Linked DNA regions of Homo sapiens: region 2 is linked to region 1. Evidence: fine-mapped expression QTL. A gene starts in region 1. The other region holds a variant in brackets. All regions are shown on one strand. Distances are between the middles of the regions. Region 1 holds the start of MINDY4 (MINDY lysine 48 deubiquitinase 4). Region 2 overlaps MINDY4 (MINDY lysine 48 deubiquitinase 4).

What was found.
Region 2: its variant is fine-mapped to the expression of MINDY4 in coronary artery (GTEx, PIP 0.97).

Annotation. Positions count from the first base shown.
Region 1 is chr7:30,767,037-30,777,979 of GRCh38, forward strand. MINDY4 (MINDY lysine 48 deubiquitinase 4) reads left to right here and starts at 4,381. Exons shown (of 18, transcript NM_032222.3): 1 at 4,381-4,520. The coding sequence starts at 4,458. The region is part of intron 3 of INMT-MINDY4 (INMT-MINDY4 readthrough (NMD candidate)); the gene reads left to right. RefSeq lists silencers at 4,262-4,311, 4,372-4,421, 4,792-4,941 and an enhancer at 4,497-4,791.
Region 2 is chr7:30,834,669-30,846,936 of GRCh38, forward strand. It overlaps MINDY4 (MINDY lysine 48 deubiquitinase 4), which reads left to right. Exons shown (of 18, transcript NM_032222.3): 7 at 1,990-2,096; 8 at 4,532-4,648; 9 at 6,092-6,180. It overlaps INMT-MINDY4 (INMT-MINDY4 readthrough (NMD candidate)), which reads left to right. Exons shown (of 20, transcript NR_037598.1): 9 at 1,990-2,096; 10 at 4,532-4,648; 11 at 6,092-6,180. Among named protein-coding and RNA genes, the nearest start is that of MINDY4, 69 kb to the left of the region's middle. The variant G/A (reference allele first, on the strand shown) is at 6,555.

The DNA.
Region 1 (10,943 bases):
TTATCTCCAGCATGTTTTTTTAATAAGAAGACCTCAATTACCATTCATGTTCAGGCAGGACAGCAGGGCTCCCTTAGGTTTATGAGAATGTTCCAGCTCACGGGAACACGGTGTAGAGAAATGAGGATTCCTTGTGGAGGATTGGTGGGAAAGAATGGGACACATGATGTGATCTAGTCTTTCCCAGATGTCTGGTAGCACACCCTCTGCCCTTCCATGATGACCAGATTGCCCCTTTCACTTGCCACCTTAAGGCTGTGTTAAGGTTCTTTTATTCCCAGGAGCCAGCTATGTGCCTGGAAAAAGAATGCATTCCTGCACTTCTCTTGCTTAACCTTTCATTCCAATGTGAAAAAAGAGTTTCAGGGCCAGGAAAGTGACAGACACACACACACACACACACATACACACACACACACACACACACACACACACACACACACACACACGCACTTAACCATGTCTAGCCTAAGTTTTACCTGGACCACTGATTGGTGCAGTTGTCCCCCAGCTAGTCTCCCTGCTTCCATACAGTAAGTCCTAATTTAGCATCATCCATAGGTTTTTGGAAATTGCAGCTTTCAGCGAAATGACATATAACAAAACCAGTGTTACCATAGGCTAATTGCTATAAACAAGAGTTGAGTTCCTGGCATATTTCTGGTCCCAAAAAGATCACCAATCTTTACCTGCTTATTCCAGTTCAGGATCATGAGTGATCAGGGCAAAAGGCCTGCCCTGGACAGGACAACATTCCATCACAGGAAGCACTCACACCCACACCCACATCCACAATCACTCACACTGGGACCATGTAGACACACACATTCACCCAGCGTGCACATCTTTGGGATGATGGAGGAAACCCGTGCAGACATGGGGAGGACACGCAAACTCCACACAGACAGTAGCCCCAGCTGGGAACTGATTTTTTTTTCTTTTCAACGTCATAATGAAACAATGTTGAAGGAAGCAATGTTTTTTGAGGATCCATTGTACTTGCCCTTAATCTACAATCGATTCTCAAAACAAAAGCCAAAGAGATCCTGTCAAAACCTAAGTCAGATCCTGTCTCTCCTCTGCCCAAAACTCTCCAAAGGATTCCCCATTCAGAGGAAAAGCCAAGCCCTTCTGATGGCCCTATACCACCAGGTCCCTGTTTCTGTCTCCTCTCTGCTCCCTCTGGCCTCAAAATTTCACAAGCACTCAGGTTGGTCGCCCTTGCAGGGCCTCTGCATTTGCGTTTCTTCTGCCTGCAGTGCTCTCCCTCCAAGTCTCTGCATAGCTCACATCCTCTCTTCCTTGCTGAAGTTCTACCATCGAAGTGATCTTATCCAGTCAACTTTTAAAAATTATAATTTCTGCTTGCCTTAAAAAGTCCTCCTATACTCCCTCCATGCTTTTTTCCCTCTTCAAGTCTATGATTTTTGGGGGTCAGCTGCAGTGACTCACTCCTGCAATCTCAGCACTTTGGGAAGCTGCATATCTTCAAGCTATCCTCCAGACAGGAGGATAGCTTGAGGCCAGGAGTTTAAGACCAGCCTGGGCAACATAGTGAGACCCTATCTCTATAAATAAATAAACAAATAAACTAGGTAGGGTGGTGCATGCCAGTAGTCCTAGCTCCTTGGGAGGTTAGGCAGGAGGATCATTTGAGCTCAAAAATTTGAGCTTACAGTGAGCTATGATTGTGCCACTGAACCCCGTTTAGGTGACAGAATGAGATGCTGCCTCTAAAATACATACACACATATATCTATGATACCCTTTAAATCATCTGCAGTGCTCTGTGTTTTGTATGCATTTATAAATTTTTTTTTCTGTCCATCTCCCCATTTGCATCTTTCCCCATTCTCTCTTCAAGAAGGCATATATTTTACAGTGTTAAATCTGCAGCACCCATACACCTGGCACGTGGTAAGGGCTCAACAAATATTTTTAAAGGAGTAAATGAATGGAGGAATGAATGATTTTTTCTCTTTTCACCTTCGTCTGCCTCCACGGGGGAAATCTCTCTTCTGACCTACTATATAACACCTACTATCTGTGATACACAACAGCAGTCCTCAACATTTTTGGCACCAGGGACCAGTTTCGTGGAAGACAGTTTTTGCATGGGAGGTGGGGGATGGTTTTGGGATGAAACCGTTCCACCTCAGATCATCAGGCATTAGAGTCTCATAAGGAGTGCGCAACCTAGGTCCCTCGCATGTGCAGTTCACAATAGGGTTTGTGATTCTATGAGAAGCTAATGCTGTGGCTGATTGGACAGGAGGTGGAGCTCAGGTGGTAATGTTCCTTTGCAGCTACTCACCTCCTGCTGTGTGACCTGGTTCCTAATAGGCCACAGACCCATACCGGTCCACAGCCCAGGGGGTTGGGGACCCCTGATACACAATCTCTTATGGAGCATAAATCTGTCTCATGTTATTCTTTCATTATTACACATCATCCATCAGTGTGTCTTCACAGCTGGAACATGAGGGCCCCTGGACCAAGCATCATACTGTCTCCTGCAACTCTGCCCTTCTCTCTCTACATATAAGAGCACATGGCTCTTTCTCACATAGCACAACATGTTCAAAAGAGGCTTCTCAAAGAACCATTGCACGTTGAGAGGGGAAATTGCCTGGAGATTATGGTGCAATCTGCCACATTAAAGCTACGTCCTATGGAGACTGTATAGGGTGAGATAGTTGCTTCCCAAGTGTGGTACATGTGCCAGTGGTGGTTGTAAGGTGATTTAGGTGAATGCATACCTTTCTGGTTTTGTGTTTGTTTTAATGTGTATTAGAGATTTAATAAGCACATAAAACCCAAGATCTTGTGGCTATTACTGCTTGGGAACACTTTCCTTTTAAAATAAATTGTAAAACATGTATGTGGATTTAAAGAAAATAATACATAAGTAACTGTATAGGGGTTAAGGGCTGAATTGTGTCTTTCAAAACTCCTGTGTTGGGCCGGGTGCGGTGGCTCACGCCTGTAATCCCAGCACTTTGGGAGGCCGAGGTGGGCGGACTGCCTGAGGTCAGGAGTTCAAGACCAGTCTGGCAACATGGTGAAACCCCGTCTCTACTAAAAGTACAAATATTAGCTGGGCACGGTGGTGGGCGCCTGAAATCCCAGCTACTCAGGAGGCTGAGGGAGGAGAATGGTTTGAATCCGGGAGGTGGTTGTTCACTTGGCAGTGAGCCGAGATTGCGCCACTGCATTCCAGCCCGGGCACCTGAGCGGGACTCTGTCTCAAAAAAAAAAAAAAAAAAAGAAAAAAAAATTCCCGTGTTGAAGTCCTAATGCCTGGTATTCCAGAATGTGACTGTGTTGGATAGGGTCTTTAAAGAGGTGATGAAGTGGAAATGCAGTCATTAGGGTGGACCCTATTCCAATACAACTGATGTCTTTATAAGAAGAGATTAGGACACAGGCACACACGGACGGCTAGCCACGTGAAGACACTGGGAGAAGGTGGCCATCTATAATAGAGGCCAGGGAGAGAGGCCTCAGGAGAAACCATCCAGCTGACACCTCGATCTTGGTCTGTAGCCCTCAGAACTGGGAGACAATAAATGTGTTGTTTAAGCCACATGGTCTGTGGTACTTTGTATGGCAGCCCAAGCAAAGGAATACAATAGGTAACATGCGGAAGTGGCAAAGATTGTGAAGGTGGAACCCAGGTGACTAAGTTCGGGGAAAATGTACTGGGCTTGGTTAGAAACCCAACTTTCCCAGTACCCAGCTGTGTGGGCCTCAGCAAAATCTTAGCCTTTCTGAATCTCAGTGTCCCGTTTTAAAGAATGGGGCCAACAGTAACTACCTAGCCAGGAAGTTGTAAGGATTAAAAGTGCAACCGTGAGTTAAGAGCTTGGTGATCAATAAATGGCAGTCTCATTACGGGAAAGCAGGCACCAAGGGGGCGAGGAACATCTCCTTTAATTTCGGTGCCCAAGAAGCAGAATGCTGGGCTTCCTTGCCCCCACCGTCAAGGCCCGCCAAGGTCAGTAGCGTTGGTGGCCCCAGAGGGGGCCGTGGTGCTGAGGGTGGACCTGAGGGGGTCACTTCCCTGTGAGTTTAGTCCTCCAGAAACAAGGAGGCAGGTATTCTTCCCATTTTATGTCTAGGAAAATGGAGCCTCGGAGCGGAGCGGTAATTTGTCCTAGGCCTCTCAGATGACCAGGGCCAGGGTCAGAGTGAGGCCCCGAGTCCGGAGCCGTGGACGGGGCCCTAGGCGACACCAGGGCGCCCTGACTGCGGCCTCCCACTCCGAGACGCGAGTTTGCGGGACGCTCCACCCCTTCCCTCCCGCCCCAGCCCGCCAGCCCCAGGGAAGGGGAGGAGTTCTTGCCGCGCCGACGCCGCCGTCGCCACGGCAACGCGGCCATACTGCGCCGGACAGACCCAGTTGCCTGGTGCTGCGGCCCGGCGTGGGCCTCGTGGGCAGAGCCAGAGCCAGAGCCATGGACAGCCTCTTCGTGGAGGAGGTGGCCGCCTCCTTGGTCAGGGAGTTCCTCAGCAGAAAGGTAACGGCTCGCCCCCTCCAAAGCCCAGGAAGTGGCTCTAATTTGGGGGGATCATCGGGGTCTCCCCTGAAGGCTTTGCAGCTTCTGGGAGGGCGCCCGTTCCCTACCTACTGCCTGCTCCAGAGATGCCCCAGAAGAGCGCCGCTTTCCCGGGACAGGGGAAACTACATTTCCCACGAGGCGTTTCTGCCGTCGTCACCGGGCGCTTCCGCAAGGCACGGTTTGGACCCCGTCCGCTGCCCTCCTGGGGCATCCGCGCTCCGGGGCGGCGGCAGCTGGGGAGGGGGCCTGGGGGCCGCGCCAAGCAATCCTAGCGCGGGCGCACAGCGGGCAGGCCTGCGCCCTAGCCTGGCTGCCGGCCTCCGTGCGCTACCCACGCAAGTCAGGGTCCCACTCGGAAAGAACTTCTCCCAGAGGGAACCCCAAAAGCCCAGAAAAGTTCTTGACGGTCAAACCCTTAGTCATTTTAGTCAACAGTGGGAATTCCAGTGGTTGCTTTAATTTTTGTAAGTTTTCCTATTGTCTTGTCCCAGGAGAGTTTTTGCAGTGTTCACAAGCTTGGAAGGTCCTTAGCTGTCATCTGGCCTCAGGGTGGAGATGGGGACCTCGGTGGGGAAGGAGCTCGCCGGGGGGTCTTGGGCGTGGTAGTGGAGGGGGACATACATTAGCTCATTCAGCACATGGTGACTGAGGGCTGCACTCTGTGTGTTTTGTCTGTCCTTGCAGTGTCATACTGGGCTAGGGCGATGGGTACTTGTCTTGTATGAAAACACATACACGTAATTTTTTGAATGGAGGAAAGGGGAAGGACTTTGAAGTCAGACGGAGACAATTCAAATATTTGCTACTAGTTTGCAGTGTGAACCTCAGTACTTTACTCACTGTCTCAATTTCGTTATCTGTAAAACAGGAAAGTAAGACCTACTCTTTGCAGATTTATAATGAGGATTAATATTAACATATGGGCAGCTTCCAAGCATTGGATCTGACATATAGATACAATGTGCACGTAGGTGTTCAACTTTATACCTCCTCCCACCCTCACTGTTTCTGACACCAAACAGGTGTCTCTGAAGTGCACCTGTTTGGAAAGTGTCTTTGTGTGTTTTTTATGATTTATTTTTATTTGAAAAAATTTTAAATGCGTTTGGCTTTGTCGCATCTGCCCTGTCTTTATGGCTAATTGACCTGCCATCACCTGTCCTGGCTGCATGTTGGATATCAATTGACACACCCTGGAAAGCTGACTGTTAACATCATTTCTTTTAAGTCTGGGTCACTGAAAAAAACTCTTAGAGAGGGCTTCCTCGTGTTCTTTCTTGAGTACAAATGAAATCCAGTGTCCTCACTGACATCCAAGCCTGCCCTGTAGCTTGACCCCAGCTTACCATCTCAATTTCATTTCTAGCCTCTCCCACATCCCTCCCCACCACCCCCCACTTGACATGGCCGAGTTCCCCTGGTCTCCTCTCCCTCGCATGTTTTATCTGGGCACACTAAGGCCCTAAGAGTAGAAAGGAGTTGCCCACAGTTACTCAGAAGGTCACAGTGAGCTGGGACTGCAGCCCAGGTATACTGCTTTCTCATCGCCTTCTGCTCTAGGGCAGAGACCACGTGCTCCCCACAGGGTTTTGCACAGGCAGTCATTGCACCCAGCAGTCGTAACCAAGAGAGCTGCCACCTTGGTGCCAGGTACCTAGAAGGTGCTGGTTTGTTGTCTCAGATCCTCGTAACAGTCCTGAAAGATAGGTATAAGTATTCCCTTTCACATAAGATTATTGTGAGACCAGGAGGCCAAGAAACTTGCCCAGGGTGAGCAGGTCAGACCATGTAATTCCCCTGCTCAAACCCCTCTACTGGCTTCCCATCATAATTAGACTTCAAGTCTCTCCATTACTTGGCTCTGGCTACCCTCAGACCTCATCTTCCATGACTGCTTGCTCCGCCCTCTACCCTTCAACCACTTTGGCCTACTTGAACTCACCAAGTGTGGTCTTCCCTCGGGGGAGTCATGATAGTCTCCTGGAGATGGCAGGGTCTGCTGAGGTGACTCTTCTGCTGCCCCAGCTTCTTGAGTCTGTGGCTCCACTCCTGCAGTGACTGTGCCATCCTCCCTCTGCCACCCTGCCCCATGGTCATGAGCTGGGCTTGTTGTTACCAGTACTGCGCCCTTTCTGTAATCTCAATTCCAAGCTTCCCACCTGTCAAAATTTCTAGCTTGTTTCCCATCATAGCCCCACGTAAACTCTTCTCCAGCCTCACCACATCTATATTGCATTGTTCCTGCCAACTTTTCACAGTCCCTCGGGCCTACCATAACCCACCTACCTCTCACCCACCCATCCTTATAATTGCACCCTCCATAACAGGTGCAGCTCTTTTGCGCTTCTCTCCTTTCATCATTCTCTTCTGACAGTAAAATTCCACTCGTCCTGCTCTACACTTGCGCCCATAGAGCTGAATGAGATTGGAGAGAAACACACACCACTATGTTGATGGTATCACTCTAAATCCATGGCCACTCACCCTTGTGGTGCCTTATGGGTGCCTGCCCACCTGGTTGCAACTCTCCAGACTGTTTACCCTCTGAGACCCTGGATGACCATTTCATACCTTCTCTCTCTTCAAACCCTGAAGCTCCTTCCCCATCTAATTTCACTGAGAAAACAGAAGTCTTGAGAGAAGTCCAGCAGGCTCCCACTACCACACTTACTCACCTTCCTGGGCTGCACCATTCACTCTGCTCTCTTTAGTGTTCTTGTGGATGAATTCTCCATACCCCTGGTTAGGCCCACCCCTCCATGTGTGCATGCCCTCTCTTGTGTGCTCAGGGATGTCGCTGTCTCCTGCACCATGCATTTCCCTCCTCTACTAGGTTACTCCTATCAGCACATGTTGTGCTCCTGCAGAATCCCATCTTGACCCCCAAACCCTAGCTACTGGTTTATTATTTCCTCCCTTTCTATAGAAACCCCATAAAGGACCTGTGTCTACTTTCATTTTAATTCTTTTCTCTGCTTTCTCGAACCCATTTTAATCAGACTTTTGTCCCCATCATTCCATGGAAATAGCTCTTCTTAGGGCCATTATTAACCTGGAATTTTTAGTCCTCGCCCTTCTTGATCTAATGATTATGTTTGTCACAGTTGATTGTGTCCTTCTGCTTGTCTTCTAGGAGACTGTCCCTCTTAGCTTTCCTCCTACTCCTCTGGGTGCTCCCTTCAGGGTCTTCGCTGGTCCCCCTAGTTTCTCTGTCCTGTGCACTCTGGTGGGCTCAAGGACTTAGTTTATGGCTCTCTTCTCTTCTTCTTTCCGTTCACTCTCAAGACATCTCAGCCAGTCTTGTGGATTCCCATACCATCTATATGCTGACAATTCCCAAATGTCTATCTCTAGCTGAGACCTCTCCTTGAACTCTTGAATTCTTACAACTGCCTATTCTACATATCTACTGGGATGTCTAACAAGCATCTCAACATGTCTCTGATAGTGTTTCTGCTCACACTTCAGACACCAAATGTATGGGGATTTTTCCTCCATACAAACTAAATCTCCAACTCTCCAGACACCAATTGGGTGTCGTACAATTCAAATCAGTCCTGACACTACCAAGAGTTAGTGCAGACCCTGCAGGTTAAGTCACGCTCATGACTGCCCCCACTTCAGATGCTAGTCAGAAGTCCCAAGTTGCCACCTGAACTTCTGACCAACTAGCTATAAATTGAGGGTTCCCACAACCCCCTCCACAGTTTTAATAATGTGCTAGAATGGCTCACAGAACTCGGAGAAACACTTTACTTACATTTACCAGTTTACTATAAAGGACACAATTCAGGAACAGCCAGATGGAAGAGATGCATAGGGCAAGGTGTGGGTGGAGGGTCATGGAACTTCTGTGCCGTCTTCAGCATGCTGCCCTCCCAGCACCAACCTGGGAACTGCCTGAACCCCATCATTCAGGAGATTTTGTGTCAATTCTGCTATATAGGAATGTTTGATTAAATCATTGACCATTGGTGGTTAGCTCAATCTATAGCTTCTCTTCCCTCTCTGGGAGATTGGGAGGTAGGGCTGAAAGTTCCAGCCCTCTAATCAAGGTTTGCTCTTTCTGGTGACCAGCCCCCATCCTGAAGCTATCTAGGGGTCCCCATCCACTAGTCATCACATTAGCATACAGAAGACATTCTTATCACCTTGGAGATTCCAAGGATTTTAGAATCTATGTGCCAGGAACCTGGGACACAGAACAAATATATATTTATCATAATGTCCAAAACTCAATTTCTGATTTCCTGTTCCTCCTACAACTGTGCCCATTGGAATAAATGGCATCTCTGTCCTTCTAGTTGCCTGGGCCCAAAACTTTGGAATTATTCTTGGCTTGTTCCTTTCTTGTGCACCTCATATCCAGTCCATCAGCAAATCTGTTGGCTTTATCATCAGAGCACATACAGAATGTAGCCACTTCTTACCACTTCTGTTGCAAACACCTTGCTCCAAGCCACCCCTTTGTTTCATGTGATTTGTGAATTGTTCAATAGCCTCCTAAATGGTTTCTCCTTAATCTCCTGCCTCCTACAGTTTATTTTCAACCTAGCAGCCAAGTGATCTTTCAAAAATATGTCAGTTCAAAATAGTAGCCTTCCCATTTCATAAAAGCCCACAAGACCTTTCCTTATGAGTCTCTGGGTGACTTCTGACTTCCTTACCTCCTTTCCCCTGCCATGCAGCTCTAGATGCACTGGCCTTTTGCAACTGGCTCAGGGCCTTTGCACTTGCTGTTCCTTGCCTGGAACACTTTTCTCCCAAGTGTCTGTGTGGCCTGCTCTTTTGATTCCCTCATCAATCAATGATGCCTTTCCTGACCACCTTTGATAAAGTAGCAGCGCATCCCCACACCCACCCTAGCCCTCTCTGTCTCCTTATCCTACTTTGTATGTTTTTTCCCCATATCATACTATACTTGTTGTCTCTCCCCCTATAGAGTGCAAGCTCCCTGAGGACTGGGACTTTCATCTGTTCACTGCTCTGCCTCTAGCAACTGGACTTACGGACTAGTGGTCTGTTCCCTTCGTTTCACAGATAGGGAAACTGGGACAGGAGTGAGCATGTGGATGATGCTGAACAAATAGCTGGCCATCTAAAACAGTGGCCTTCATCCTTGTCTTCCCTCTCCCTGCTTTGTCTCCCTCGTAGTGCATATTAGCAGCTGCCACACTATACATTTATGGTCTGCTTTCCCAACAGAACATCAGCTCTTATTCCTTCTGTCTCTCCTGCATCTAGAACAGAGCCTGGCACATAGGAGGTGCATGACAGGTGTTTGTTGGGCGAATGAAGTTTGAATGGGCTGGATGGGACTGAGGACTGGCTGACTCCCAAGGGCACCCTTGTCCTCTACCCCAATGGTATTTCTTTTCTTTTCTTTCCTTTTCTTCTTTCTTTCTTTTTCTTTTTCTTTTTTTTTTTTAGAGATAGGGTCTCACTCTTTCATCCAGGATGGAGTGCAGTGGTGTAATCATAGCTCACTGTGGCCTTGAAGTCATGAGCTCAAAGATTCCTCCTGCCTCGGCCTCTCAAAGTTCAGGGACTGCAGGCCTATGGCACCATGCCCAGGCCCCCGGTGGTTTTCAAATGCTGGTGTGCATCACGCTCTAGAGCCAGGGTAGGGGTGGGGTTTGTTAAATGTACAGGGCTTGCTGATTTGAACTGTTGACAGACATAAAGAATTATCCATCAGAGAGAGCCTCGTTATAGCATGTTCCACATCACTTTGACTGGAGGGAAAGCCATGGTTAAGCCCAGATGAAATGCGGGTGGTTGGTTTTGAACCCCACCTCTCCTTCAAATGGACTCTTCCCGATGCACCTAATCCACCTTTTTTCTGACCCATATATCCATTTCTTTCCATTTCCCTTCCCTACGGCCTCCTCTTTCCTCTGTTTGTTTCAAGATTGTGTTCTTTTAGTTTCCCAAATTGACCTTCTTAGCTAAATTCATGGTGGGCATGGGTTTTGTCATGTTTCCCCAGCAGCTAGAGCCTCTGTAAAATTCTGAACACAAAGGCTCTGGGAGAGGCTGAAGCCTGTGTAGCACTGGGGGTCTGGAATCCATTAAGAACAAGGAACACCCCTAACACCAGGCTGAGCTGTTGGTGAGGCATGTTCTCAGCCTCCAGCCATTTGACAATCACCATGGCCCAGTGAGGTGGGCAGAGAGCAACTGCTGTGGTTGTTTTTCAAATAGAGAAGCCAGGCACTTGCGAACAGGACCCTCACTTCGCCAACCCCAGATTTTCCATTGCTAGAGCATGTCTCAGCTGGGCCTTGAACCTTGGTCTTCTGGCAGTTCAGGGTGGGATGATGGAAAGTGGCTTTGCTCATGACTTAGCATTTACCAAGAGCTTCTCATGGGCCTGGGTCC
Region 2 (12,268 bases), 68 kb after region 1:
AGTTTTCTGAGCTTTTATGCTTTGTTTCCCTTATAAAACTGGATGCCTTTAACAGCACTCAAGTCGCCTCTTGAATGCTTTGCTGCTTAGAAATTTCTTCCACCAGATACCCTAAATCATCTCTCTCAAGTTTAAAGTTCTGCAAATCTCTAGGGCAGAGGCAAAATGCTGCCAATCTCTGCTAGAACACAACAAGAGTCACCTTTGCTCCAATTCCCAACAAGTTCCCCCTCTCCATCTGAGACCTTATTGTTCATACTACTATCCGCATTTTTGTCAAAGCCATTCAACATGTCTCTAGGAAGTTTCAAACTTTCCCACATTTTCCTGTCTTCTTCTGAGCCCTCCAAACTGTTCCAGCTTCTGCCTGTTACTCAGTTTCAAAGTCACTTCCACATTTTCGGATATCTTTTCAGCAGCGCCCCACTTTACTGGTACCAATTTACTGTATTAGTCTGTTTTCATGCTGCTGATAAAGATACTCCTGAGACTGGGCAATTTACAAAAGAAAGTTTATTGGACTTTAAATTGCACATGGCTGGGGAGGCCTCACAATCATGGCAGAAGGCAAGGAGGAGCAAGTCACATCTTATGTGGATGGCAGCAGGCAAAGAGAGCTTGTGCAGGCAAACTCCTGTTTTTTAAAGCCATCAGATGTTGTGAGACTTATTCACTATCATGAGAACGGCACAGGAAAGACCCACTCCCATGATTCGGTTATCTCTCACTGGGTCCCTCGCACAGCACATGGGAATTATGGGAGTTACAAAATGAAATTTGGGTGGGGACACAGAGCCAAACCATATCAGAAGCATTCTCATCTAAGTTCAGGTTCATATTTAAATTCCAGACTTTATTCCCCAGCCCAGTGGTAGAATCTATGTGCTTGTTCAGTGGCCTGAGTCTCTAGGAGTTCCCCTTGTGCTGTGGCTGGGTCGCCCTGGGGAGAAAGGAGGCTGTAGCATAAGATATAAGCTGTGTGTCCTGGGAATGGTGGCCTTTGATACCACCCCCGCCCACACAGGCCCACTCTGGCAGGCCCCTCTAGGGAGCTGGATTCACAGAGCCAAGCCCTCAGCTACCCTCTGGAGTTCACTCTGCTCAGCCTTGCCGGCACCATTGCCTTGGCATTGTTTCTCCCTGGGTCCTTTATCACTGTGTTCTGGTGAATGCAGCGGCAGCAGGTGTAATGACAAGGGGGCCTTAGCTAACGGGGAAGTCACAGCTGGGACCCTCTCTAGGCCTCAGTTGTCCCACTATGAGAAAACAATATCTGGAATATGGCTTACGGTCCCTGCTGGAGGTCCAGGACAGTGGGATGGTAGAGTTACTAGGAGTCACTCTCTCTGCCACTTTCCATTTGATTGATTTGGGGCCAGTTACTTAACTCCTCTAAGCCTCAGTTTCCTCATCTATAAGTGGGGGTAATGATAATTACTTTCTCATAAGGCTGTTGTGGAAGAAGGTGATCAAATTCAAGCAGTCAATAAATGCAAGTTACAATAGTGATTATATGCAATAATTATTTTATCAGCAATGGTTCCATTTTCTTTCCCAGTCCTGTCCTCTTCACCTTTGTCCTTGGGGGAATGATCTTTCGAGTCATGCCCACCTTTTGTAAGAAATGTGTCTGAGCTAGGCTTTCCTGGTCCTGGTTCGATGGCTTAGGACCCAGGCACTTGTTCCACTCTATGTCCATGCGTGGAACTTTCTAGTGGACCAGTAGCTAAGTCTCACTCGGCAACATCCTCGTGGTATGAACAGAGCAGGGTTGTGACAAGGAGCATGGACTCTCTTGATCTGGTTGCTTTCCTTCCGCTAAGGGTCTGGGAACTTCAGAACAGAGCTGGGGTGAATGAATGCGGGGAGGAACCCTCCTTTCACTCAAACCTTCTACAAACTTAGCAATGTCTGTGGTGTTCAGTGACTTCATGTTCTGTTCTCCGTGAGTCATAACGAAGGGCTCACATGGCCATGGTTTTCTTTCAGAGGATGTGGAGGATGAGTTGATAAGGGAAGAGGTCATCCTGTCGCCAGTCCCATCAGTGCTCAAGTTGCAGACAGCATCAAAACCAATTGACCTCTCAGTAGCAAAGGTAAGTGTAAGGAGACTCCTGGGTTAAATGTGTCTTGATTTGAATGGATATAGATGGCGTGATTTTGGTGTTTCTGCCCCAATCCAGCTCATTGTAATCTCTTGGTCATTGTTGAAATGGAAATTTGGGTGTGATGTAGAAGAAAATGTGAACCGAGAGTCAGGAAAACTGCAGTCTAGTCCTTGCAGCTCTCGTTCCCTCTCCAAGACAAAAGGTGAGGGAGGAGGTTATGTCCTCCCCTCCAAATACCGTGGGAATAGAGCTGCTTCATCATGTCCCTGTGGGCACCGTTAGGGTGTGATGGAAATGGTCCAGTTGTCCCCATTAGAGCAGCGCTGCTCCTGTACTGGTCTCCTAAGCCCTGGCCAGGTTGCAGTGAAGGAAGGACAGGGAGGTGTTAACAATTCTTCAGCACTGTTCAGGTGTACTCCCTTGGCCACTTAAAGGGCCCCGTGGTCACAGGGGACCAGGAGCAGGTTCCTGGCCACAGCAGCCTCTTCTGCAGGGGTGTCTGGGATTGCTCACCATGCTCGGCTACCAGGGTGGCCTCACCACTCCCGTGACCAGAGGCTCCTGCAGGATGGAATGTCATTCCCGCTGTCCTCTTCTGGCCTTTCACCAAGATCCAGGAGGGAAAAATAAAACTCCTAGGGACACAGCTGACTTCCTTCTCTTCCTACTTACTACATATTTACTCAGCATACAAATCAAAGAGCAAAATATTTTTCTAGAGGTTTTGTCCTTTCGTTTCCTTCCCCTCTCCTCCCCTCTCCCCTTCTCTCTCATATCTCCCCCTTCTTCCATTCTCTCTTTTGAAGCTACAGAGGGTCAGATACACTTAAATGGCCCCAAACCTGGGAGGAGGTGCTCTGTCATCTGTCACCATGCAATGAGTCTTTGCAGAGCGCACTTATGCTTGGGGCAGACCCCTCAGGCTCCTAAAGACTATGCAGCAGTAGCGTCTCCAAAAGCAACTGGAAAAAGTGAGGCCTGCAGAGAAAACAGGAGGGCCCAGGGCACGTGGCCTCTGGAAAGCAGAGTCCAGGTTCCCAGGCTCTGTTGACCACACTGTGCCTAGCGGGAGCTGTCATTCTGAGCCCTGACAGATGAATCCACACATCCTTTCTCCTGTGTGCCACCAGCCCACATTTGATGACATGTGGACAAATGCTTCTGTCAAAGAGATTTTTCCTTATATTTAATGAAAAGGAAAAAAAGAGCTGATTCTGGTGGAAAATAATGAGTCTGTAGGAAAGGTCTGACCCAGAGAGGGGGTACAGGGAAGTGGCTGTAGAATCCACCTGCTGGTCTTGGGGCTCACTCAAGGCTTCAGAGACCCCCTCAGATGTAAAACCATGGCAGAGAGAGGGTGGGCCCATCATGAGGGGAGTGGGCGGGGACCTGCTGCCTTTCTCATCTGAGGGCCTGTCCATGGGGAAGGGATTGACCATTCTGGGGGCTCTGGAGGGTGATGCGTGGGTTGATGGGAAATGAACAGTGAACTCATTATCAGCCAGAAGTCTGGAGAAGACAGCCGTGAGAAAGTAGAGGGGCTGCCTTGAGAGGTGGTGGGAACCCCTTCACTGGGGGGTTGGGATGGTTCAAGCAGAGTTCACGGGGGACCACTCATGGGCGGCATCACAGAGGAGGTTCTTACGCATGGTAGAGAGTTGTACTAGACCAGGAGTTGGCAGGTGTTTTCTGTAAAGGGCTCAATAGTGTATTTTTGGCTTTGCTGGCAGTGTGATCTCTGCTGCACCTATTCAACTTTGCCATCATGGTATGAACACAGCCATGGGTGGTATGGAAACAAATGGGCTTTGCTGTGTGCCAGTAGAACATTATTTACAAACAGGTGGTGGGGGCAGATTTGGCCTGTGGGTCACAGTTTAGTAACCCTGCACTAGAGCACTGGCTCTCAAACCCGGCACACTGTGGAATCACCTGGGGGAATCTTAAAACTACTGATACTGGAGTCTCACCCTCAGCAACTGGGGTTTAATTGGCTGGTGTGTTTTCTGAACATCAAGATTGTTTTTAGGAACTTCGTATCCTAGATGGTTCTAATGTGAGGTCGAGTTTGAAAACCCCTAGTCTTGCCTGTGGAAGATCAGAGGACCTCCAAGATCCCTTGCAAATCTAAAATTTTGTTTCTCAAGGCCCCTGTAAGGAGCTTACAAAGATTTTGGCCCATGTCAGCACAGGCTAGCTTGGTTTAAAGATGTTCCAGAGGTAAGACCCTCATTATTGAGTTTCTCTTTCATCAAATATAAGAAGAATGAGCCTGAAAAATAAAAAGAGAAGAGATGAACCATGCTAGAAAATGGGCTTCCCTGCTAGAATTCAAGAACAACTTCTGCAGGAATATGCACACTGAACATCGTATTGTTGCTTGCTTTTAAAACAACCAGTAAAACTCTCTCTTCTTTTTATAGGAAATAAAGACCCTTCTGTTTGGTTCCAGCTTTTGCTGTTTCAATGAAGAATGGAAACTTCAGAGTTTTTCCTTTAGTAACACAGCCTCATTAAAATACGGCATAGTGCAGAACAAGGCAGGTTGCTCCTAGGTTTCCTTGGGACCTTTCTGCTGGGCCATCATGCATAGGGGTGGGTGTACCTCCCAGTTTTGGTTAATCCTGTGAGCATTAGCTGAGCTATTCTGGACCAGCCAGCCCCACATGTGCTGAGTTGTCACTTGGTGCAGGCACTTCAGATGTGGCTGGTGCAGCAAGAGCTGGGGAATAAGACCCTCTGCTTTGGAGATGTTAAAATTGAACATGGATTTAAGGAGCACTTGCTGTGAGTGGTGCAGGTGCTGGGATCCTCAGCAGGAGAGAGAGCAGTAGGAGGCCTTCAGTCTGCTTGGGGCCACTAGAGGGGCCTTCTTAGGCTGATCATTGAGAGATTCACAGGATTTTGCAGATAGAGCTGGAGAAAGGGCACTCCAGGCAGGTGGCAGCATTAATGAAGGGGAGGCGGTTTGAAAGTCTAGGGGCTGCATGAAAAGGCAGAGGGATCAAGTGTGCAGAGCAAGTGCTTGAAGAGAAGGATGTAATAGAAGCTGGGCCAGCGGAGGCCAATGGTTGCAGGCCTAGAACATGGCTTATACCCAGTTCCCACATTATACTCATGGGCAGAAAATAAGCTAAACCCAGGATCAAGAATCAGCAGTTGAGCAGGGCAGCTTGGTCCGGTTCAGTTTCTTAAGCCCCAGGAACCTCCCCTGCCCCACACTGCCTGAGGTCGAGCCCCAGGACCACCAGCTTCTGTCCCTCCCTCTTGTGGCCAAACTCAGCTGGTCTTCATGAGCACCCCAACCTGCCGTTCAGACAATCCTTAAACCTGGATGAGGTCTGTTTGTGTTGTTCAGTCCCACTAGCCTTTGCCAATGTGTCCCAGGAGTCAGATCCTGTGCTAAGCCCCGTGATGCCTACAGAGATGAGCTCCTCAAGAAGCCTCTGCACCACAGGGTGAGAAAGGACAAAGATACACCTAATGTGGTGCTGAAGCAGGCCACAAGTGGGGCAGAAGAGAGCGCAGAGCTCATGTAACCACAGGCTGTTGAAGGGGCTCACTGCCAGCCGAGATGGTCAGGAAAGGCTTCTTGGAGGAGGAGAACTTTAGGATGGGCCTTGAAGGCTGGGTAGACAATTAACACCCTCAACCTGTAGACACAGAAACATTTCCCTAGATGATAGAAAACCTATGGTGATGTCCTTGGCTTCACAGCTGACTGGTTATGAGGAGTCACTTTCCTCCCATGACACACTGACAACTGGCCCCTTCCCCTAGGAGTGGACAAAGGGTCTTGTCACTCCCTCTCTGTGGCCCAAGGTTAGTGTGTTGTAGAAGCAGTTGCCACATCAGAGGCCCTTCTGTTGCAGAAGGCAGGGCCCCTTTACTCTATCAGGTGGGTTCTGGGGTGGGTTTGGGTGAAACCAAAAACTCTGCCCCAGGCCAGTTCTCACTGGCAGCAATGGTCTCATTCTTTGCAGGGTGGTCCTTGCGGAGTCCTGGCAGCTGTCCAAGGCTGTGTCCTACAGAAACTCCTGTTTGAAGGAGATAGCAAAGCCGACTGTGCTCAGTAAGTCAGTGCTCTTTCTGGCAATATCTTATTTTCCCAAGTCTTCCCCAGAGTGTCCAGAAAAAACAAGCAAGGAAGCATGTGTGTTCCCTGATATTTCCTGTCTTCTGCAGGTCAAGAAAGGAGAGGTTAATGGCAGCTAGCTGACAAGGCCTGCGCAGACCAGTGTTAAGGGGACTTGTGCGCGTTTGTTTCTGAAAGCGGGGAGGGTTCTCAGTGGTGCTCCACCTGGGAAGGGGCTGCAGGAACGACATCAAAACCAATTTCCCTCCTCAGACGGCAAGCTGCCCGAATCCCTTCCACCCACCAGGTCGACCTGCCGACCTTTCGACTGCGTCCGGGCCTCCCTTCCCTCCCCACGCTATCTCCCCTCT[G/A]CCAACATTCATAACCACACATTCCAGGCCGCCCCACAGATCATCACTTCCACTCCCTGCAGCCGTTCAGTTTCCATTTCACACATTAAGTGTTTGCACATGAGCACCTTATTCTCATTCATTCAGCACACATTCCTGGAACATCTCTGTGCAGGCACAAATGATACAGGGGAGAATTAGATGAGTTCTGTCCTCTCCAGAAATGCTCCATGAGGTTGAGAGGCAGATAGAAAACCCCAATCCCATACCATCGTTGGTGCCAAGATGAAAGGATTGGCAGGGCACTGGTGGGGCTGGAGGCGAGGCCTTCTTGAGGAAGTGACCTGCCTCTCTTTCCCTCCCTGCAGGCCCGGTTACCAGCTTGTACCGAGTCACCCTCAGAGCTACAGAACTTCTGGCAATTGGCCTTTTTTAAAAAAAAAAAATTTAGTTAAAATATAACATATACACAGTAGTTATACTATGTGTGTTCTGCTCAATGAATTATCACAAAACCGCACACCCATGAACACATTGTCTAGATTAAGAAAAAATATTTCTAGTACTCCAGAAGCATCCTCTGGTACCCAGCAGGTACCCCTATTCTCCTGAAGTTATATTAATAATTAAATGGATTTTAAAACCATAGCTTAATCTTGCCAGTTCCTGAACTTTATTGAAAGGTACTTGTTCTTTGAAATAAGCATTTGAGAATCTTTTTTAAAAAAGCCTAGGTGTTACCCAGACAACAAGACCCATTTCCCATGCATTCCTGGGAACGACACTGTTCACTAGGAGAGCCATCCAGCCAAGCTTGGTACTCCAATGAAACACATTTCACCAGCACGGATGATTTTTCCTTAGTTAGGGTTCAAGTGAAGGTGGCTTTTCATGCTTGGCATCTTAAAATTTTTTCCAATGGTTTTGCACAATAATAATTGAGGTGTTTCCTCTCCAACCAAAAATGCTAATCAGAAGCACAGCAATGTAACACTTCCGTGGCAAGATCTCACCTGTCCTTGTTCTTCTCTCTGCTTCCCCTCCCCTTTGCTCTCCGGTCGATCCTTCGTGGCTCTTGTCTGTACAGGATCATGCCCCACTGCCTGCTCTGGAAGTTCAGCCCCACAAAGGGCTGGGAGGTTTGAATGTCATGGGCAGAGACCCTGCCATCAGCTCTCCCTGGTGGGCTCAACACAGTCCTGTATGCTCAGGAATGCTCCTGACTGGGTGGAACTTTGCTAAGTAAGAACCGCTGGCTGCCCTCAGAGGGTACAGGGATACTGAGCACATATGCACCTACCTACCTACCCACCTTCCTTCCTTGCACTGAAAAAAATGTGCAGAGTGTGCTTAGCAGGTCCTCAGCAGGGATACAGGGCTGAACAAGACACATACAGGTGCCCTCATGGCACCTATGATTGAACAGGAGAGCCAGACAGGAACAGGTGGTTACAGGGGACATGCACGGTGCTAAGGGTTCATCTGGACATGAAGTGGCTCAGGGCGGGCAGCCTGGTGGACTGACATTTTCATCTTACGGAGATAGGAAGGATGGACAGAACCCCTGATTCCCCTTCATATGCATCCTTGCACACTCTTATTCCCCCTCAAATTGTTTTCACCTTCCCAGCAAATATTCTCAAACACCTTCCTGAGCCCTCAGGCTCTGTGCTCAGGCGCTGTGCCTGCTGGCTCCTCTCATTGCACAGAGGCCACATCTTTGTGGAGGCCTCCTGGGACCTCCCCCATTAAGATAAAACCAGGCCCTGCCTCTAATAACTCCACTGCCAGCTGGTGCTCTTGCTCATCGATATGGTTACCTGTCCACATCTGCCGCCACCTACTACTGCCCACCCCACTCCAGAACACAAGCCCCGTGAGAACAGGGACCTTCCTGAGCTGGTTCACAGCCAGGGCCCTGGCATCCAGCCCTGTGTCTGGTCCACAGAAGAGGCCCTCAGAATTTTTGTTGAGAGAACACATGGACAAATGAATGAGTTATCCAAACAGGGAGGGGAGGCAGAATGGTATTCCAGTAAAGAGAACAAGATGTGCAAAGCCTGTGGGCAGTGAGAGGAGTGGAGGAGTCACTGGGGGTGGTTAGGGCAGCATTTGGAGGAGGAGGGTGGGAGCTGGGGTAGTGGCAGGTCAGCGCCAGGCTGCCAGAGGGGCCTTGGGTGCTGCCAGCTGCTTGGATCAAGCCTTGGCCCTTGCAGGAGATTGTCTCTAAACTCATTTCAGCCTAGTGCTCCTTCAGAGTTGCTTTTGAACTTCACCGTGGGCTTCTGGGGGAACTTGTGGATGGTTTCCCAACAGTCAGGACAAGGCATTTAAGCATGTTCCAGGAAGAGCCGACTCTGCTCAGGGCACAAGGCAGACTTGGTTTTTGTTACCCCACCCCCAGGCCACATCCATGGGGTGGAAGCCCACTGCTGTCCACACCAGGGAGGGAAGCCAGGCCTTAGAAGGCAAAAGCCATCCAGGTTGGGATCCCAAGGGGGTGTCTGGGTAGAAAGAAAACTGCTAAGCTGGAGGAGTGAGGTTTTCTATCTGTCGTTGCCGGCCAGGCAGGTACCTCCTAGCTGCAGGCCAAGGATGGTGCAGCCCAGTGGGTCCTGGGGCTGTGGGGGTGGGCAGAGGAGGAGGGAAGAAGGAGCTGCTGGCCTGTTGGGGGTCATCATGTGTGGAGGTGTGCCAGGTGCCAAGGAGCCAGACCTTATGGGGGGGCCTGCCTGGCTGGACCAGAGGAGGTCTGTGCCATGCAGCTGGGAGAGCACGGCCTGCTGGCCAGGGCCACCTTCTCCAGCGAGCCTGGAAGGATTCATGGTGTAGGAGAGTGACCTCGCTTTTGTTTGGAGCCCTGCAACTCTGGGTGCTGCTTGTAGCCCACCCCCTGGACTGGGTGCTGCTTGTAGCCCACCCCTACCGGCTGCTGCCCCATCACAGAGGTGCTGTGCTGTGCAGGTTGAGTGAAGCGGTCTGACTTCCTGCTCCCACAGACCTCCTAGCAGGCCTCAGGGGACATTCTTCAGACTCCCCTGAGAGGGAGGAGTGGAGAGCCTGGCTTAGTTATGGAGCTCGCTGAAAAAGCCTCAGGGGACTCAGGCAGAGCTGTCACAGGGAGACAAGCTGGGGAGGCCCAGAGACCGTCTCCCCTGACCCCAGCAAGGACTCGCCTCCTCCTGGTGATGGGCCCTGGGCAGCAGGCACCAGATGCCCTCCCCAGCCCTCCCACCCCAGTCTCCTCCCACTCTCCTGCACTGGTCCTGCCTCAGGTCGCAGGTAGATAGGGGTTGGGGAGGAAGAACCCTCCTGAGGACAGGTTAGGGCTTCTGTCAAGTGAAGACCCGGAAGACCAGGGAGTGAGGGCCTGCTGTCGGGGGCCTGGAGAAGAGAAGGGAGGTGGAGTCCATGTCACTGCTTTGCCAAGGCCCTGAAGGTCAGAGGCTACAGAAGGTTGTCCTTGCCAAGTGGGTGGGTGTCTAGCCTGTAGATGTTGGTGCCCAGGCTGGGAGGGGGAATGCCTGGCTTTGTGCCCCTCAGCCACCCTGGGAGAGGGGAAGGGTGCTGAAGAGGGTACCAGACCGGGTCAGGACCTGGATTATGGTTGTGTGGAAACAGAGCATCACTTTCTCCGTTTGTGAACTAGGAATAGTCATCTCTGGCTTGCCTAAATTGGACTCAGTAAGAAAATGCAAAGTCCTTTGTAAATCTTCAAGGGCTCTATAAGTGAGTAGGGCCATTGAACTCAGCCTGCCATGGTACAGATGGGGAAACTGAGGCCCAGAGAGGGAAAGATGGTTGTTCAGGGTCACATCTGGCATCCCTGGCAGAACCAAGACTGGCACCTGGTGCCCCTGTGTCACATTGTGCTGCTGTGCCCTGCAAGAGGCATGGAGCAGTGGGGGCCCAGGGAGGCCAGGAGGAAGGCTGAGGGCTCTGAGTTTTAGACTTCCATCGCTGGACACCCACACAGACTCCTAGGGACCAAGGGGTGGCTCTGTTCATGAACGGCTTCACGGTGGAACCTCCCCTTTGGCTTTAAGTTAGAAAAGATGAACACAGAAGAGTACAGAGAGCAACATAGCAAACACCTACAGAGCCCCTGCCCCACACGAGCAAAGGGAAACACTGGGTCACGTGGGCAGGAACCTCTCTCAGTCCTCAGCTCCTCGGTTTCATTGACTTATATAGTTTTCACATTGATTGATTGTGTTATTGATGTTCCTTCAAAAGCCATGTGTGAATGGTTGGGTGTGAGGCCTCAGCACTCCCTTTTGACTCTGAAATTCTAGGATTTCAGACATGATCCAGCTTAAAAAAAAAAAAAAAAAAGGGCAAGCTCTTCTGTTTTCTTCAGGAACACCACGATGACCTGCCATCAGCTGCCATCTGCTCTGCGGCTCTGGGGAGCTCAGGCCCTGTGGACCCAGAGGCAGCCCCTGCACTTTCCTGCCTGTGTGCGGGGTCTGCCTTGGCCCTGGAGGCCCCCACCTCAGATGTTGCCCACCACATCTGGTGGGGAAATGGTTCTGTGAAAGCAGATGGAGGATGGGATCGCACCCTCCAGGGAAGTCACGCTGAAATAAAGGCATCTTGGCAGTGGTGGTGTTTTTTCTGCAGGACTGTCTGGCTTCATTACGACTCATTCCATCAGGCCGGCAGCCGGCCTCTCCTCAGTCGGGAAGGATGGAGCTGGGCAGCAGTACTTGGTGTTTTTCCACTTGAGAAGAGGCTGTGCCGGCTTGGCTCACAGAAAGAGATGAAGAGCTCTTGATCCCCCTGAAGGCCTGGAGAGAGCCACAGGCCAGGAACGGCCCTCAGAGGCGGGTGCGGATCTGAGAGTCGGGGAATCCAGGAAGTCCTCCTCTCACTTCCACTTCCCCTCTGAAGTTGGGGAATTCGAGGCCCAGATAAGGAGAGGTGCTTGCCCAAGGCCTCTGTGGACATTGGTAGCAGAACCTATGGTCCTGCAGCCCCAGGCCAGCCTTTCTACCCCCTATTGCAGCTTTTGACCCTGAGAGGGAGCAGACAGGGAGCTCCCCCAAATTATAGACTCTGTACATGGCTCCATGGGCACGTCACAGTGGACAGGTGAGGCTATTTTGAGAAAGTTAGGGTAGAAACATCTCTTTCATCTGAAACACTTGGGTAATTTAGGTAAAAGCAGGATGTATTATTCCCTCAAGATCATTTATTTTCCCTATCTCTAGATAAATGTCTTTTTCCTGCACTTCACCTGTGAGGAATTCGACTCTTAAAGAAACTTCTCTTGGTTTAAGAGCCTGGCCAGGTGCCAGCCTCCTGGGAGGAGTCTGACTGATCAGGAAATGCAGACCTGTTTGTCACCTGGGTTCTGCCAGTGAAGGCGTGCGCTGAGCTATCTGGTAAAGGCCTGGGTGATTCAGACGCAGGACCTTTCCCTGTCATCATCTGTGGGTGCAGGTTCTCACGCAGGCACATACAGCCCTGGCTAATCTGGGGTGGGTTAAATCCACGGTCCCCAGCCTTTTTGGCACCAGGGACTGGTTTTGTGGAAGACAATTTTTCCATGGACTGGAGGTGGGGGTGGGATGGTTTCGGTATGATTCAAGTGCATTACATTTATCATTAGATTCTCATAAGGAGCGCGCAACCTAGATCCCTCGCATGCACAATTCACAATAGGGTTCCTGCCCCCACGAGAGTCTTATGCCACTGCTGATCTGACAGCAGGCAGAACGCAGCTTCACTGG